Regions from separate parts of the Homo sapiens genome. Here region 1 is linked to region 2. The links come from fine-mapping of genetic effects on gene expression. Tissue or cell type: whole blood. Region 2 holds a variant in brackets; the other region holds the start of a gene. All regions are shown on one strand. Distances are between the middles of the regions.

What was found. PIP is the estimated chance that this variant, and not a neighbour inherited with it, causes the effect.
Region 1: MN1 starts here. The variant in region 2 is fine-mapped to the expression of MN1 in whole blood (TOPMed, PIP above 0.99). The same link has a PIP of 0.9 or more in blood mononuclear cells and monocytes.

Annotation. Positions count from the first base shown.
Region 1 is chr22:27,797,846-27,805,845 of GRCh38, forward strand. It overlaps MN1 (MN1 proto-oncogene, transcriptional regulator), which reads right to left and starts at 3,911. Exons shown (of 2, transcript NM_002430.3): 1 at 1-3,911. The coding sequence starts at 2,698. RefSeq lists enhancers at 885-1,431, 1,432-1,977, 6,320-6,884, 6,885-7,448.
Region 2 is chr22:27,664,993-27,673,251 of GRCh38, forward strand. No RefSeq gene overlaps it. Among named protein-coding and RNA genes, the nearest start is that of CPMER, 46 kb to the right of the region's middle. RefSeq lists enhancers at 2,464-2,963, 4,340-4,634, 4,440-4,734. The variant C/T (reference allele first, on the strand shown) is at 4,550.

The sequences.
Region 1 (8,000 bases), 130 kb after region 2:
CGCTGCTACTGGTCCCGGACGGGCCTCCGGGTCCTGGGGCCCCAGGAGCAGTCCCTCCTGGGAAGTAATCCGAGCCCGGGTTGCCGGCCACTGCCGCGCCGTCGGTCTCGTTCTGGCTCAGTTTCCTCTTGCCCTCTGGCGGGTTCTTCTTGTTGAAGGTCACGTTGAGGTTGGGGGCCCCGAGGCTGGCGATCATGTTCTGGCAAGCGGTGGAGAGCGCAGCCAGGCAGCTCTGGCCGAACAGGTTGTCCTTGGAGCTGGGCTTGTTGAAGGAGCCCAGCGAGAGCGCGCCCAATTTACTGGCCGAGGTGCGCTGGCTGGGCTGGAAATCAGGCTGCGGCGGGTAGGCACCCCCGCCACCGCCGCCACCAGAGCTGCCACCGCCCCCTCCCGCGCTGGGGGGCGAGTTCACGCCTGGACCGCTGTGCGGCGTGGACTGCCGGCCGGCTGCACCAAACGGAAAGCCCGGCTGGCCCCCGAGCGCAGACGTAGCAAAGTCCGGCGGCGGGGGCCGGCGCTCCGAAGCAGCGCTGGGGAGCCCCACGCCCGCCCCGGGCGACTGCAGCTGACCCAGGCCTCCCAGACTGCCCCCGAACTGCAGGCCCGGTGAAGGCAGCGCGGGCACGTGGCCCTCTCCGGGCATCCTCATCGGCTCCTGCAGAGGGCCCCGGAACAGCACCCCCGAGCCACCAGGCGGAGGAGGGGGCGCCAGGCTGGGGTCGTGCGGGCCACAGTCAGCGGGCAGACCCGAGCCGCCCATCCTACGGGGCAGCAGGTCTCCGGGCGGCGGATGCGGACCTGAGAACCACGCGCTCTCTTGCGCCAAGTGCGGCGCCTGCTGCTCGAAGGTGCCCAGACGCCCGGCGCCCGTGCTGCCGCCTTCGCGCTCAAAGTTCGGCTGGGCCAAGCCGCCCACCGGGCCGCCATGCACCAGGCCGCCCTGGCCCACGTCCCCGGGGTGGCCTAGCTGAGCCAGGTTGGGCTGGCGCAGCCGCTGCTGCTGATTCCGCGACGCCATCTGCTTAATCATGAGGGCCGCGTTTTGGCGCTGCTGCTGCTGCTGCTGTTGCTGTTGCTGTTGCTGCTGCTGCTGCTGCTGTTGCTGCTGCTGCTGCTGCTGCTGCTGCTGTTGCAGGGACTGGTGGTCCGGGGCCGGATGCTGCAGGGGCGGCCCCGAAGGGAAGCTGTCGGGCACAGGCGGTGTGAACTCGCCGGGTAGGCCTGGGTAGGCGGAAGGGGAGAGGTGATTATCCAGAGCGCCGTTGTGCATGCTGCCGTTCCACGAAGCGCAGCGGTCCACTCCCGCGCTGCCCGGAAAGTCGAAGCGCGGCCTCTTGGCCACGTTCATGTAGGGGGGCGCGTCGAAATGCTGCAGCCGCTGGTTGGGCGCCTGCTGCGGAGGAGGATGCTGCATGCTGAAAACAGGCTCGGAATAAGGGTGCATGCTCCGGTTCTCCAGCCGGTGGATGGGATACTCGAATTGCGCGTGCTGGCTGGGCAGCATGGGGCCTCCGTCCTGCAGGCCGCCGCTGGGCGTGCCCGCCTCGCCCTGCTGGGGCCGAGGGAGCGCAGGCGGGCACGAATTTTGTCGGACTAGAAGCCCGGGTGGCGGCGGCGGCTGCTGCTGTGGCGGCTGCTGCGGGGGCTGCTGCTGAGGGGGTGGCGGGGCCTGCTGGGGAGGCTGCATTAACGGGTGCCTGGAGCCCACTGAGGGCTCCAGACCCACAGGCATCTTTCTGGCCCCACTGAACCTCTCAAAGAACACACCATGCTGCTGCTGCTGCTGCTGGGGCTGCTGCTGCTGCTGGGGCTGCTGCTGCGGTGGCTGGGCGTGCATTTTGGACAAGCCCACCATGCCCGCAGCTCTGGGCATGGCCGAGGCGCCCGGGAAAGCGCCCCCAGGAACCTGGCGACCCGCTGCATAATGAGGCAGCTGCCCTTCGGAGTCAGAGGGCGAAAACATGTCAAAATGTCCCGAGGGCGCCTCGCCCGGGTAATTGTATTCCAGCGAGTCGACGGCTCCTTGGTTCGTCACCCTCCGTGGCTCCAGACTGTGGGAATCGGAGCCGCTGGAGGACGGCAGGCCGTGGAAGGAGGCGGCTCGGTTAGGGCTCTGGTCCAGCGGCAGGCATGGGGCCGGCACGGCGTGGCTGGAGGCACCTGAACTGTGGAAGTCCGGGAGGTTCCCCGGTCGCTGCGGGCCGAAGCTCTCAGGCCCCTGGCTCTCCGCCATGTGCTCATAGCCCTCGGCGAAGGGCGGCTGGCTGCCCAGGCCTCCGGCTGCGCCGCCGTAGCCGAGCAGGCGACCCCCGTGCAGGCACGAGGCCCCGGGGTCCGGGCCACCGAAGTTGCCCCCAAAGTGGGGGTGATGCTGGTGGGGATGATGACTTCCCGGGTGGCCGTGGTGAGGCTGCTGGCCGCCAAAGAAGCCGTGCACAGGCTGCGCTTGCAGCCCCCCTGCGTGCAACTCCGAGTGGCCGCGCGCGTGGAAGCCGTAGGGCTCCATGTTCATGCCCAAGATCGGGGGTTCGCCCAGCGCGCTCATAGCAGGATCCACAGGGCCAGGGGGCCCCCCAGTGTGGAAAGCCGGGGCCTTAAAGTGGGTGTTCATGCTCAGTCCGGTCTCGTTAAAGTTCCTCTCGCCCTGGCCAGCGTTCCTGCTGTTGACCTGGGGCTCGAATTGGTCCAGCCCAAACATACTTGGCGGGGGGCAGAGGGGGATCAATAGGGCATGACAGCCGGCTCTCCGCGGCGCGCCTCCGGCCAGCTACTCGTTCCAGCCCAGGATTGGGCGCTCCGGGACGCTCAGCACCGCGGGGGCTCAGCGCGCACCTCCACCCCGCCTGATGTGAGGGACGGGGGGCGGGGTATTAGCTCCTCTCCTGAAGCTCCGATTCTGCCCGGGGAGGGCCTCTCACATCTTGCGAGGCCGCGGGGCCTCTAGGAGCCGTGTTGGGGGGCCCATGCCCCGGGCGGTTGTCACAGCCGCGGGTGGGTCTGCGGGGAGGGGACGAAGCCGCGGATGAACGGAGACAAAAAGTTAAGTGGGGGGAATGGGGAGGGAAGGGGGTTGGGAGAGCAGAGCGATCACCTTCTCAAGTCCGATTGGGTCTGCTGGGGAGCCCTCAGGACGCCGCCCGCAGCCTCCCGGAGTCCGTGGCAGAGCTGCTAAGGGCAGGGGAGGGAGACCCTTCAAAGCCGCGGCTGGCGCCGGGCACCGACAGAGCGGTCCCTCCCCCCGCCCCCCGGAGTCCCCGCGCCCCGCAGCCCGAGCCTCCACCGAGCACGATCCGCTCGCACAATCCCCGTAGGCTCCGGGCGAGCGGCTGCTGCTTCTTCAGCGGGTCGGAGGACTGGAGGCTCCGCTCGGCATCGCCGGTGCCGGCCCCCGAGCCGAGGACGCAGAGGGGCTGCGAGGCGGCAGGCGCCGGGGGCTGGAGCCGAGGGTCGGGGAAAGGCGCGGCTCCTCTGCTCGGCAGCGGGTGCGCTGCGTTCGGCGCGCAGCTTCGCGGCCACGTCCGCCGCCTGCCGCTTCTGTTCTCCGCCGTTGGGTGTCTGAGTTCGCCGGAGTCTCCGCGCACCGTTGCAGGCGCGGGAGGGCAGCGAGACGAGGGGTTGGGTCGCTCCAAGGCTCCGGTTCCCTGCCTCCGCGCTGAGGTGCTTCGCGAGTCCCTCTCGGACCTGAGGGAGGGGGGCGTACGCGGGTCGGGGGGCCACGCCGGGCGAGCAGGCTAAGGCGTTCCCGCTGCGCTCTCAGAGCCCGGAATGGGGGGAGGGGGGCGCGGGGGCAGCTCTGGGGGGTCTGCGCACCCCTCTCCCGACTAGCGGGGGGGCTCTGCGTGGGGCGTTCCGAGGGTCTCGGCTCCCCTCTCTGTGTCTGCCTCTCGCCCAGCGCCGGGAGAAGCAGCAACAAGTTTTGCATTTCAGCAATCAATTTCAGCCATTACATTTGCACCAATCAGCGCCGCCCAAGTTCCGGGCTCGGGGCGGGGCTCGCTCTTAAGGTGGTCCGGGGTCCTGGCTGCCGAAGCCCCCGCCACGAACCCGCACTACCCCAGCTCTGGGGTCCCCTGCGCCCGCCTCTCCTCGGGGTCCGGCGTCAGTGCGCTGGGGGCGCGCCCCGGCCTCCGGGCGCATCGAGCTGGAGAGGGTGCAGGCGGAGGAGAATGGCGGGAGCTTGGCTTTGTTCACCCCCTTCCCATTCACACTGTTCCCAACTCCCCACCCCCAACTGGAGCGAGACCCACCGGGTGGGCAGGGGGCGGGGAGGTGGGCGGTGAGCGGTACGGGGCGCTCAGACAATGAGGTCGCCAGGCAAAGACCCTAGACTCGCCACGGAAAGTCGCTAAGTGTCTACTGCACTTCGGCTCCGGGGTGAACACTCCGTTCTCCGCTAGCGGCGCCCAAGTTAGCCGGCCCTGGGATTTTCTTGGAGGGTAAAGCAGACGGGGAACCTCGAAGTTAGGGTTCTCCTCGAGAGACCTGGGCGCTTGCTCACTCCTCCGTCACTAGGGCGTTCACAATTGTTCCCCTTCCCCACTGCCTGGGGTTCCCGGTTCTCACCGGCCGGCGTGGGCTCCAAGGAGTCACAGTCACTCAGCCACTTTATGGGGGAGCACATCGGTTGAGCCCAGTAACCGGAGCGACTTGCGAGGCGGCTGGGAACCCCGAGAAGACACGCACGAAGAGGGCGCACCCGCCGGGCCGCACACCTTGCCCTGGGCCACCCGGTCCAAGACCCAGACCCTCTGCGGGTGCGAAGTTGGCCTCCTTAAGAGATCAATTAAACTGAAGAGGCCGAGGAATGGAATTGGGCTGTGATACTAAAATCAATAGGAGTAATTTAATATCTGCCCTGCTCTTTATGAAATATTTATCCCAATAATCTTAGTTAAAATGTTTAGATCGTCCTGATCCCCACAGAGGCTGAAATCTATCTTGCAATTAGAAGTTGGAAGTTAGAGGTGATGGAGGATAGAGGTGTTTATTCTGTGCGCCTGTGTGCGTGTGCTCGCGCCTGCGTGCGTGTGTTTGTGCATGCGTGTGTGTGTGTGTGTGTGTTCCTCCCTAAAGTGTGTGTAGGGAAGGAGGGGGGAGAAGGCCTTTAATTTTCCTTGCCATAAAATAGCACGAGGCGATTTTGCTAGCAGATTCGCATTCTTAGGAGAAGGGCGAAAAAAGAACTTTCTTTGAAGTGCCCCTGATATCGCTATTAAATCTAAATAAAATTAAGCGTGGTGTATGAAAATGCCTTTCCCCCCCCACAAAAGAAAGTGTTTATCGCCCGAGTCTGTCTAGCGTTTGCTAAATTACGCATGAAATCTGAAATGAAATAAACGTTATAATAAAACCAACCCCTGAGCCCTTTTTATTTAAAAACCTTAGATTAAGCACTCCACCGTCGCGGGCAGGAGTTAAAAAGTTACCATGTCGTACGCGCAGATTCATTGCTCCCCTGAGTTGCGGCTAGGAAGGCAGTGCTAAGTATGCCAGAACCGACATGCCGGGGGTGGGGGGAAATGGGCTCAACTTTGGGGTAGCGGCAGAATTCCTAAGAAATTGCCCCCCGCCCAAAAAAAATTTTAATTAAAAATAAACAAACAAGAAAAAACAACAACTTTAAAACTCAGCCAGAGCAAGCTCAGATCCAAGACCTTTCCCGGGGCCTTCCTGTTGTGGAAGTTTACAGACATATATATTTTTTCTTTTTTGAAATTAAAAATGAAAATTACCCCCATCAAAAATGGGGTCCATAAATAAGCATAGGGAATAAGTATTTGTACAGGGCGGTGGAGTTTTTAAAGGATTTTTCTGCAGGATCAGGTTGTTGGTCTGTGATTAAATATTGATTTTGTGTAATTAGTTTTCATGTGAACTATCCTCTTGCTGATAGCTTAGAGGTTTCAGAACTAGAAAAGAAATGGAATTGGACATGGAAATTATTACTTAGCAAAGTGACAGGGAAGTGAGAGCCAGAGAAAAGACTGAGGCTTTGCTGATTTAGGCACAAAGAAATAAAGGCTTGGGTAGGCCCTCCAGTGACACCCCCCCCCCGCCCGCCCCGGGGCCTAGGACCCTGGGGCTCTGGGGCTCCCGAGACAGAGCAGGGGGGATCTTGAACCTCCTGGACAAAAAGCGGGAGGCAATAGGAAAACCTGGTTGTGAGGAAGAGGCCCCCACATGGGCAAAGGCCTGGGCATAGTCCAAGATACTGGGTCACACACTCAGTCTGCTCTCGACTATGGGTGTCTCCTGAGGCACCTATGAGCCGCCTGTGTTTCTGTGTCTGGAGGAAATAGGGAAAAGTGGGGACCTGTCTGGAGCCTGGGGGTGGGCCAGGAGAGTGGGAAGAATGGCTCACAGGCCTGTCGTCTGGGGAGACCCGGATGGGGGCGTCTGCAGAGCTGAGGCATGACTTCACACAGGGCTGGGTGGGGGTCTCCAGCACACCTGGGCAGGTTTCCTGTGGAATAATTCCGTGTGCTCCAGGGAGGGGGGGTGTGGGAGTATTTTTCTGGGGCTGTTTCCAAGAGTTAGCTCCACAAGGTGTGTGAGTGGCTGAAAGAAGGGAGTGTTTGGACCTGGTGAAGTTTCTGTTCAGGATGTGTGTCTCGGTCACCTTTCTTTAACACTGCAAATGTTGTGCGGGTGTGTGGCACACGTCTGCATTTTGTGCCTTTGCTTGTATGCGGGTGGCGGGGCATCTGCGTGTGTTTCTGTCCATGCCTGCGTCGGCGTTCGTGCATGGATCTTTGGGGGTCTTGGTGCATGTTCTCTGTCTGTCCCCCAACCCCGCATTTCTGTGTGTGTGAGCCACTGCGTTTGTACCTGTGTGTGTGCAGCTGCCTCACCCCTTGCATGCCTGTATCTCTGCTCCAGTGTATCTGTTTTTTCTGCGAGTGTGAGGGCGTGTGCCTCACAGCCTGTGCCCATCTGTGCCCGTGTATGCGCCGGCGTGTGCGCCTCCACAGTGTGGGCACCCCTGCGTGTGCCTGTGTGTGCTTTCGCCCGCAAGGTCCCGCAGTGTTTCTTTGGAACAGACACATTGCCCCCTAGCGCTCAGATGAATTCAAAGTCCCCGCAGGCGCAGAGCCGGGAGCAGTAGGAGCCTCAGGGCCCTCCACCCGCCAGGGCTTTCTCCATCCTCCTCCCTCCCCAGGTCCCCCTCCGGGGGCACTGAGTGTGCTGGCAACGGCCAGAGGAGGCCCTCTGGGCAAGGGAAGGAGGAGACACAGCTGGATGGGGCCCCAGAGCTGGAGAGGGATGTTTTAAGCTGGTGACAAGTGGGGAACTGCCTGGGATGGCCCCCAGAACACTCACCGCTGATATGGAGAGCCTGGCACACCTCAGCTAGCCCAGGAGCCTCAGCCTGCAGCCCACCAGTGAACTCTCACTCTATAGAAACACAAAGCAACCCACACCCAATACCCGTCACCCAGGAGACACACAGCCTTCGTGCCTGCCCCGTTGGCCCCCAACACCACCAGCACAGACACATGTACACACTTACCTCCATAGTGTGTGGCTGTGTCAGCAAACACATGCACTCACATGCACACACAGAGCAATATCAGCATACACGTACTCACACACACACACACACCCCTCCATAGTGTGTGGATGTCAGCACACACACACATATACACCTCCATAGCGTGTGGCTATGTTAGCACATACACACCCCGCCATAGTATGTGGATGTCAGCATCCATGTACTTATACACACACTCACACATACATCTCCATAGTGTGTAGCTGTCAACACACTCACACACACGTACACCTCCATAGTGTGTGGATGTCAGCACACACACACACACACACACATACACCTCCATAGTGTGTGGCTATGTCAGCACACACACACACACACACATATACACCTCCATAGCGTGTGGCTATGTCAGCACACACACACACACACACCCCTCCATAGTGTGTGGATGTCAGCATCCATGTACTCACACACACACCCCTCCATAGTGTGGGGATGTCAGCAC
Region 2 (8,259 bases):
CTTCCGTCTTTCTTTTGTTAAAAATTAACTTCAGGGTTTTTTTTCTAATTTTATCAAGACAGTAAATGCATATTGTAGACAATCTGGCAATGTAGGTATTTGCCTATATTACTAGCTGTGGAACATCAGGCAAGGTGCTTCTCAAACCCTTAATGTCGTCATCTGTGAAATGGGGACAGTCCTAGTACTCACATCACAGATTCATTGTAAGGAGTAAAAGAGACTCCAAATGTATGCATCTGGCACAGAAGAAGCTTAAAATAAATGCACTAAGATGAAGACCAAAAAGAGACTTGTAGCCCAACATCAGGGACAAACCCAGACAACATCTTATAATAGATTACTCTCTTCCAGATATTTTTTTTCTGCACAGATTTAAAGAAAGAAAGAGACAGATGTAAAACAACAATTTTTCAGGTATATGGAGATCACAATGTAATTCTATTTTGTAATCTGGTTTTATTCTCATTTAACAGCCTGAACATTTGACCCACAAAATGATAATATTACCTTGAACCTATAAAGACCTTTCCATCTTTTTGTTACTTCAATGGAAATGCAAAGTTTTAGCAAACTGCCCCTCTGCTGGTTATATGTAAGAAAGTGTATTTCCCTATGTCTATAAGTCCTCTTCTAAGACCTAATTTTATGGCTGAACTGAATTTCAGCCTGTAGCTAGACCTTAATTGATTCAAGCAATGTAAGTAAAAATAAGTGGTAATAAGCAAAAACAAAACAGCAAAATAAGTAACAATGGTTATTACTAGTGTTGTAACAGCATTGGTCAGGTTGTTTGTTTCTACTGATCTGCTATAATCAATGCTGTCATGACATCCTCGTTGATAAAATCTTTGTCCATAAGAAACAAATTCTTTAGGATTTCTAAAGGAATCCATCCCCAAAACAGAGACTATGAATAAGCTTTCCAAATGTTGTTGCCCTTTGTGATATGCCCACAGAGAAGGGACCAAGACATGTTGGGCATTTTTTAAGTGTTAAGTGTTATGCTAGGCATTTGGCCCAGGCATTGAATCTCCAAGCAGTGGCTCACACCTGGAATCTCAGCACTTTGGGAGGCCAAGGCGGGAGGATTGCTTGAGGCCAGGAGTTCGAGATTAGCCTGGACCACATAGGTAGACCCCATCTCTACAAAAAATTAAAGAAAAAGTAGCCAGGCTTGGTGGCACACATCTGTAATACCAGCTACTCAGGAAGCTGAGGTGGGAGGATCACTTGAGCCCGAGAGTTTGGGGCTGCAGTGAGCTATGATTGCACCACTGAGCTCCAGCCTGAGTGACAAAATGAAATCCTGTCTCTTAAAAAAAAAAAAAAAAAGAATCTCCATAATAACCCTTTCATTTTTTGTTGTTGTTGTTGTTGCTTCAATGGATATGCAAAATTTTAGCAAACTGTTCTGCTACTTATGTGTGAGAAAGCCTATTTCCCCACACCATCACCAATACTGGGCATTATGATTTGTATCAGTCAGCTATTGCTGTGTAACAAACCATTACCAAACTCAATGGCTTAAAATAGTAAGCATTTATTATTGCTCATGCATCCACAGGTCAGTCAGCTGGTTCTTCTGATCTCAATCAGCCTACTTGTGCATCACTGGCTGATTTTGCTGATTATTACCGGGCTCTCTCAAATGTCCAGAGCTTGGCTCTACTCCACATGGTCTCTCCTCCTCCCCCAAGCTAGCCCAGGCTTGTTCCATGGCAGCAGCAGAATTTCAGGTTAGCAAATCGAAGCTGCAAGTCCCTTATGGCCGAGGTTCAGAACAGGTACAGAATCACATCATCACATCCACCACATTCTATTGGCCAAAACATGTCACATGACTGAGGCTTGATTCAAGGAGTGGGAAACAGACTCTATCTCTTGATGGGAGGAACTGCAAAGCCACATTGCAAAGGATACAGATACAGAGAAGGGAGGCAAATTAAGAACATTTTTGCAAACAATCACGTAATTTTTTAATTTTTAATTTTTTAATTCTATTTTTAAAGTTTTTACCAATTTTCTAACTTCAGAAAATGTTTTAATGTATATTATTGGATTATACCCTGCTTTCCTTCCCTCTGTTTATTGGCCACTCATCAATTGACTCTTTGCACCCGAACACTAATCTTTATATACACCCTGGCCCACACTCCGCCTGGAATTCCAGTCCATGCTCCTTCTGGAAGCCAGCCGTCACCCCCACGCTTCAGCTCCTCCTTCGCATAATGAATAGCCCAGGAGCCTGCAGGAGAGAGAGCCATGGCCGACCACCACCAGCACTTCCCCCGGGCAAGCCCCATGATGACACCATCCATCACTGCCACCCTCGGTGGCTGTGCGCCCCAGGCCCGGCCAAGGAGGAGAGAAAACACTGCCCACAGCTCAGTGGAGCCCTTAATGATTACGTCAAGTGGCAAGCCATTTATTAGTCTCCTTAGCGGCCAAAAAAAATAAGGCCTGAGAAGCCAGAAAGCACATCAGGGGACTGTGGTTTTATTTTTTATAACCGCTTCAAGCCTCAGACACCAAGGGGAATATGGGTCAGGAAGGGAGGCAAGGCTTGGGGGCTGGGGAAACAGGAGTTCTGAACCAGTCTCTGCAGAGGGACTGTGGGCACAGAGAGTTTGCACGGCCCATCCAAGGTCACACAGCTCCCAGGCCGGCGTCCTCCCTCAGGGTCATGGTGTGCCTTCCACTGCACCTGTGTTAACAGCTCCTGCATTTTACCATCAATTGCTTCGAACCCTTCTCTGGAGATTGGTGAATAACAATTAGACATGAGCAAGCATTGGAAGGGGGTGCAGAATATAGGGGGTTCTGGAATTGGAGTGAGAATACCAGGATATTTCACTTCTCTGAGCTTCAGCTTTCTCCTCTGCAGAATGGGCATGAATCAGGGCCAACTTTACGGCCATGAGATCTCTGCAGTTGCACAGAGCCCGGCGCTCAGAAAGGCTCCAAGCTGGGTTTATGTTTTGCTGTTACCGTCTTGAAATTCTTTGTGTGTGTGTGTGTGTGTGTGTGTGTGTGTGTGTGTGTGTGTGTGGCAGAGTCTTCCTCTGTTGCCCAAGCTAGAGTACAGTGGCGTGATCTCGGCTCACTGCAACTTCTGCCTCGCAGGTTCAAGTGATTCTCCTGCCTCAGCCTCCCAAGTAGCTGGGATTACAGGCATGCGCCACCACACCCAGCTAATTTTTGTATTTTTAGTAGAGACAAGGTTTCGCCATGTTGGCCAGGCTGGTCTTGAACTCCTGACCTCATGTGATCTGCCCACCTCAGCCTCCCAAAGTGCTGGGTTTACAGATGTGAGCCATCATGCCCGGCCACCATCTTGAAATTCTTAATTTCTGCACCTATCTATGTTTTGTAAGTGAAGCCCAGTGGGGCAGTGAAGCATGCAGGTGAGCAGAAGAGACTCACGGAAGAAGGGCAAACATTTCCTATTTTAGTACCTTTACTGTACATTTTTCCTGCCTTTTAAACAAGGAGGACTGCAGTTTTGTTTCACACGGCAGCCTGCAAATTTTGTTGCCACCCTAAGCATGATGATACCTCCTGGGCCAGGCTGGGCACCTCAGAGACTCTCAGAGAGTGGCTGGCCCCACCAGTCAGGGGCTCCATCTCTCCCTTTGTAGGTTCCTCTCCTCCACTGGAACCCGGGACGGTTCTCCTGGATGACACCCCTCCTCTTCCTGCCACATTTAGACAGGTTCCAAGCCCCTCCTTTCCACCTCCTTCTCGTCCCTGCCTCCATTTCTGCTCTAGTTTCATCGCCCCAGTATTGCTCACCTAGAATTCCTGCCTCCTGCCAGAACCTCCCAGCCTTTACCCTGCCCTGCCCCCACCCACTCTCTTTACAAGGCTAAGCCCTGGTTCCCCAAGCTTCCACATGGGGCCACAACACCCCACTCTGGGCTCTAGACATTCCCTACCAACCACTGGCTGGTGGTTCCCATGTTCCACATGTCCTTCATTCCCCATGCCTTCCTAACAGCTCCTGTTTATTGAGCACCTACTGTGTGCCAGGACCCATGCTAAGCATCTTGCATGAATGAACTCATTTCATCCTCATAAGACCCCTATGACATAAACACTGTGAATATCTTCAACTTACAGGTGAGGAAACAGAGGCACAGAGTAGTTGATTCACTTGCTCTAAGTCACACAGCAAGTGCCAGAGAGGGCTTGGATCCCAGCAGACTGGTACCCACACCCTTAACCATCACAGAACTTCTCCTCTGTACCTTTGTCCAAGTCAGTGCTTTCTCTAGGTATGTTCTTCCCTGATGGACTTAGTCCACTCTTCAGAGTCCAGAAATATTTGCCAAGTCAGTGAGTGACCAGATGATTTTGTCCCTCGCTTGCTGTGCAGCTTTGAGTGGGTCACTTCCCCTCTCTGGGCTTCCATTTCCTCTTGCATCCAAAGAGAGTGAGCTGAGACCCACTCAGTAGGCAAAGTGAGGCCTCAGACCCACTGGGATTGGCTGCAGCTGCTGTGAGACAGTGAGACAGAGGGAGCCGCCCCATGGGGCCCAGGTTATAT[C/T]TGGGCCATGACTAAGCGTGCCCAGCCCTAGACCATCTGTCTGTCCACATCCGTCACTGTGAGGAGGGGCCAGGGGGCCACGTCCCTTAGCTCCAGACCCACATGACACCTCCTCTCAAAAGGGCAGAGCCCGGCCTGGAGCTGGGTGGCACATGATGCCTACTCCTCCTGCACTCAACCGCCTCACCCCTGCACTGCAGGACTCACACCCTTCCTTCCTGGGCAGAAACAGCCCAGAGGAGCCTGGGCTGATCCCAGCGCACCCTCGGCCATGACCTTGGGAAAATCCTCTGTGCAGCCAGCAAGCAGATAGCCATTGTCCCACTAATCCGAATAACCGATGCCAGGCTCTGTGCAGATCATCTCCTTGAACTTGCCCATCCCCTCCTCCAGGCAGTCTGCCCAGATAGCTGCTGCCTCAGGCTGATTTAGGGACCTTCTATGGGCTCCTCCACGGCCTGTGCACGTGAGGGGAGTCCTCATATTAGATCCGTTTTACAGAGGGGCAAACTGAGACATGGAGAGGATCAGGACTAGCCCAAGATCACACAGCCCCAGGTGGTAGCCGCCTGGCCCCAGAGGCTGTGGGTTTAAATCATTGAGCATTCCTGCCTACCTGTGCCAGGCACCGAGGGGCATGGGGACAGTAGTGACCAAGGGCAAACTCAACGCCCACCCTGGTGAGGCTTCCATGAGCAAGTGCATACATTCAAGGGACCACCTGTCATTCTTGCTTGCCACATCAAAGGGCGCAGCCTGGGATCCCAGCCTCGTTCTGCCCCACCCCCTCAATGCTTGGCAAACACCCGACTGCATCACTCCTTCCAAGGTCAAGCTGTGTGGACCTTGGGCAAGTCACTTGACCTCTCTGGGCTGTCTTTTTCTTAGTCATCAATATGCCTTGCAAGTCAAATCAACCATATGACTTACTTGGCTGGAACCTCCAAACTATCCATAGAGGTTGACAGATGATCCCCATCATCCAAATGAGGAAACTGAGGCTCAGAGAGGAGGGAGCTGCTTGCCCAAAGTCAGGAAGTGCCTTAAGGGGATGGCAGAGGATGTGGGTGTCCACGGGGGCATAGGTGCTTCCTGCCCAGAGCCAGGGGGTTGGGATCAGCCAGGAGGTGATGGTAACCCCTCCCCTTCCCCAGCCTGCTTCTTTCTGCCCCTTCCCCACCTTCCCCCTTCCCCCTTCCCCCTCCTGAGGTCTCCAAACAAAGCTGCCTTTATCTGGACTGTAGCTGCATTCCTCAGTGACACATGAGGACAAAGGCGGGGGCCACCGGCAGCGACAGGAAAGCCCTACCGCCCCAAGCCAGTTTACAGCCTTCCCACGCCCCGCCCCCACCCGCAGGGCCTCCCCGGGGCCTCCAGGCCTGGCCCGGGGGAGCTCTGGGAGGAAGTTTTCCCCAGGACCCTGCCTCTCTTGCCCCACCGGAGCCTGGCTGTTTGTCCTGGGGAGGAGGCTGAGCTTCTGCAGCCTGGATCCAACCCCAGCTCCGCCCTGGGCCCCATACACACTGCGGGGCCTAGGTGAGTCTCTGAATCTCCAGGCCTCTGCTTCCTGGTCTGTAAAACAGGAGTGGATTTCCGGAGGGGCTTAGTGAGATCATGCAGGAGGCAGCTGGGCACATCGAGAAGGCCACCATGATTGTTGATGGTGGTAGTCTTATTGGTTTTCCATTTCCAGCCATTTTTGAGCCCCTTTCAGTTCCTGAGAGTGCTGCTGTCACCCCAGAGGATTGCACATGCTGTTCCCTCTGCCGGGAACACTTACCATCCCTTGCTTCCTCCCCTGGCTAACTCCTGCAGGTGTCTTCCTAAACATCCCCTCCTCCAGGCAGCCTGCCCAGATAGCTGCTGCCTCGAGCTGATTTAGGACCTTCTATGGGCTCCTCCATGGCCTGTGCATCTCCATCACACAATATCTTGAGTGAACACTGCCTGGGGATCACAGACAGTGACCAGGAGAGATGGGGAGGAGAAACAAAGGAAGTGGGGCTGGGCACCTACTGTGTGCCAGACCTGTGCTAAGCATTTCTCTCTCATCCAGGGTGTTGGGAACCCTCCCAACAACCCTCCAAAGCCAGCTTTATCATTCCATTTAAAACATAAGGAAGCTGAGGCATACGCCTGAGACTCAAGCCTAGGTCTGTTAAATTTCAGAGCCTGGACTGAACACTGCCTGCTGATAGCGGTCACCCCACCAGGCTCAAAGCCCCTTAAGGGCAAAACCAGGGTGGTTTTGTTCTCTGCTGTATACTCATTGCCTGGCACTGGGCCTGGCCTCGCTCACCCATTGCTGATGGGATGGGTTGGTGGGTGAAGTAGCAAGTGGGTGTACAGGGCCCTTTTTTTTTTCTCTTGCTAGACCAGGGAGGGAAGGAGGAAGGAAGGGAGGAAGGAAGGGAGGGAGGAAGGAAGGGAGGGAAGAAGAAAGAAAGGGAGGGAGCAGGGAGGGAGGAAGGAAGGAAGGAGGGAGGGAAGGAAGGGAGGAAGGAAGAAAGACAGGAGGAAGGGAGAGAGGAAGGGAGGGAGGGAGAGAAAGAGGGAAGGAAGGGAGGGAGGGAAGGAAGGGGAGGGGAGGGGGGAGGGGAGGGGGAGGGGAGTGGGGGTGGGTTAGGCGAGAGAAGAAGGGGCCGGGCATGGTGGCTCATGCCTGTAATCCCAGCACTTTGGGAGGCCGAGGTGGGCGGATCACGAGGTCAGGAGATCCAGACCATCCTGGCTAACAGTCTCTACTAAAAATACAAAAAATTAGCTGGGCGTGGTGGCGGGCACCTGTAGTCCCAGCTACTCGGGAGGCTGAGGCAGGAGGATGGCGTGAACTCGGGAGGCAGAGCTTGCAGTGAGCCGAGATCGCACCACTGCACCCCAGCCTGGGCAACAGAGCGAGACTCCGACTCAAAAAAAAAAAGAAATAGGGGTCTCTGAAGCCAGAGCTGGCCCCCTAATCCCACGTCATCTAGGAGTGGAGGCTGGGGCTGCAAGAACAGGATAAGGCCTTAGAGGTTCAAAAAAATAAGAAATGCAGTAGCCTCTCCCCTCCCCCACCCCACCCTGGCCCAGCTCTCCCAGAAGAATGAGCACCATTCTGACAGCCAGGGCCTCCAAACCAGATCTGCACAGTTTGGTGTCCAGATATCGCTAATGACCCACTCATCTCATTTCCATGTTTGTCCCTGGAGCACCTACTGTGAACCAGGCAGGATAGAAAGCACACAGAAAGGGGAAACTGAGTCCAGTTCTCCCAAGAGGTCACAACCTGGATCCACAGCACGAGAAAGTGTTCTTGAGATGATCTGGCCAGACCAGAGAAGGCCAGATATTTGCCCAACATTGCACAGCAAGGTCCAGAAAAGTGAGAATTGGGACCCAGGGTTCTAGTGCTCCTGGCCCAGTGCTCCCCTCTCTATAGAACATGTCCAGGGGGTAGTAGAAGGCCAGGTGACAGTGACCAGGAGAGATGAGGAGAAGGAGAAAGAAAGGAAGTGGGGCTGAGCACCTACTGTGTGCCAGACCTGTGCTAAGCATTTCTCTCTCATCCAGGGTGTTGGGAACCCTCTCAACCACCCTCCAAAGCCAGCTTTATCATTCCATTTAAAACATAAGGACGCTGAGGCATGCGCCTGAGACTCAAGCCTAGGTCCGTTAAATTCCAGAGCCGGGTCTTCTGACAAGCAGAGGTTGTCCTATGGATTTGTTCA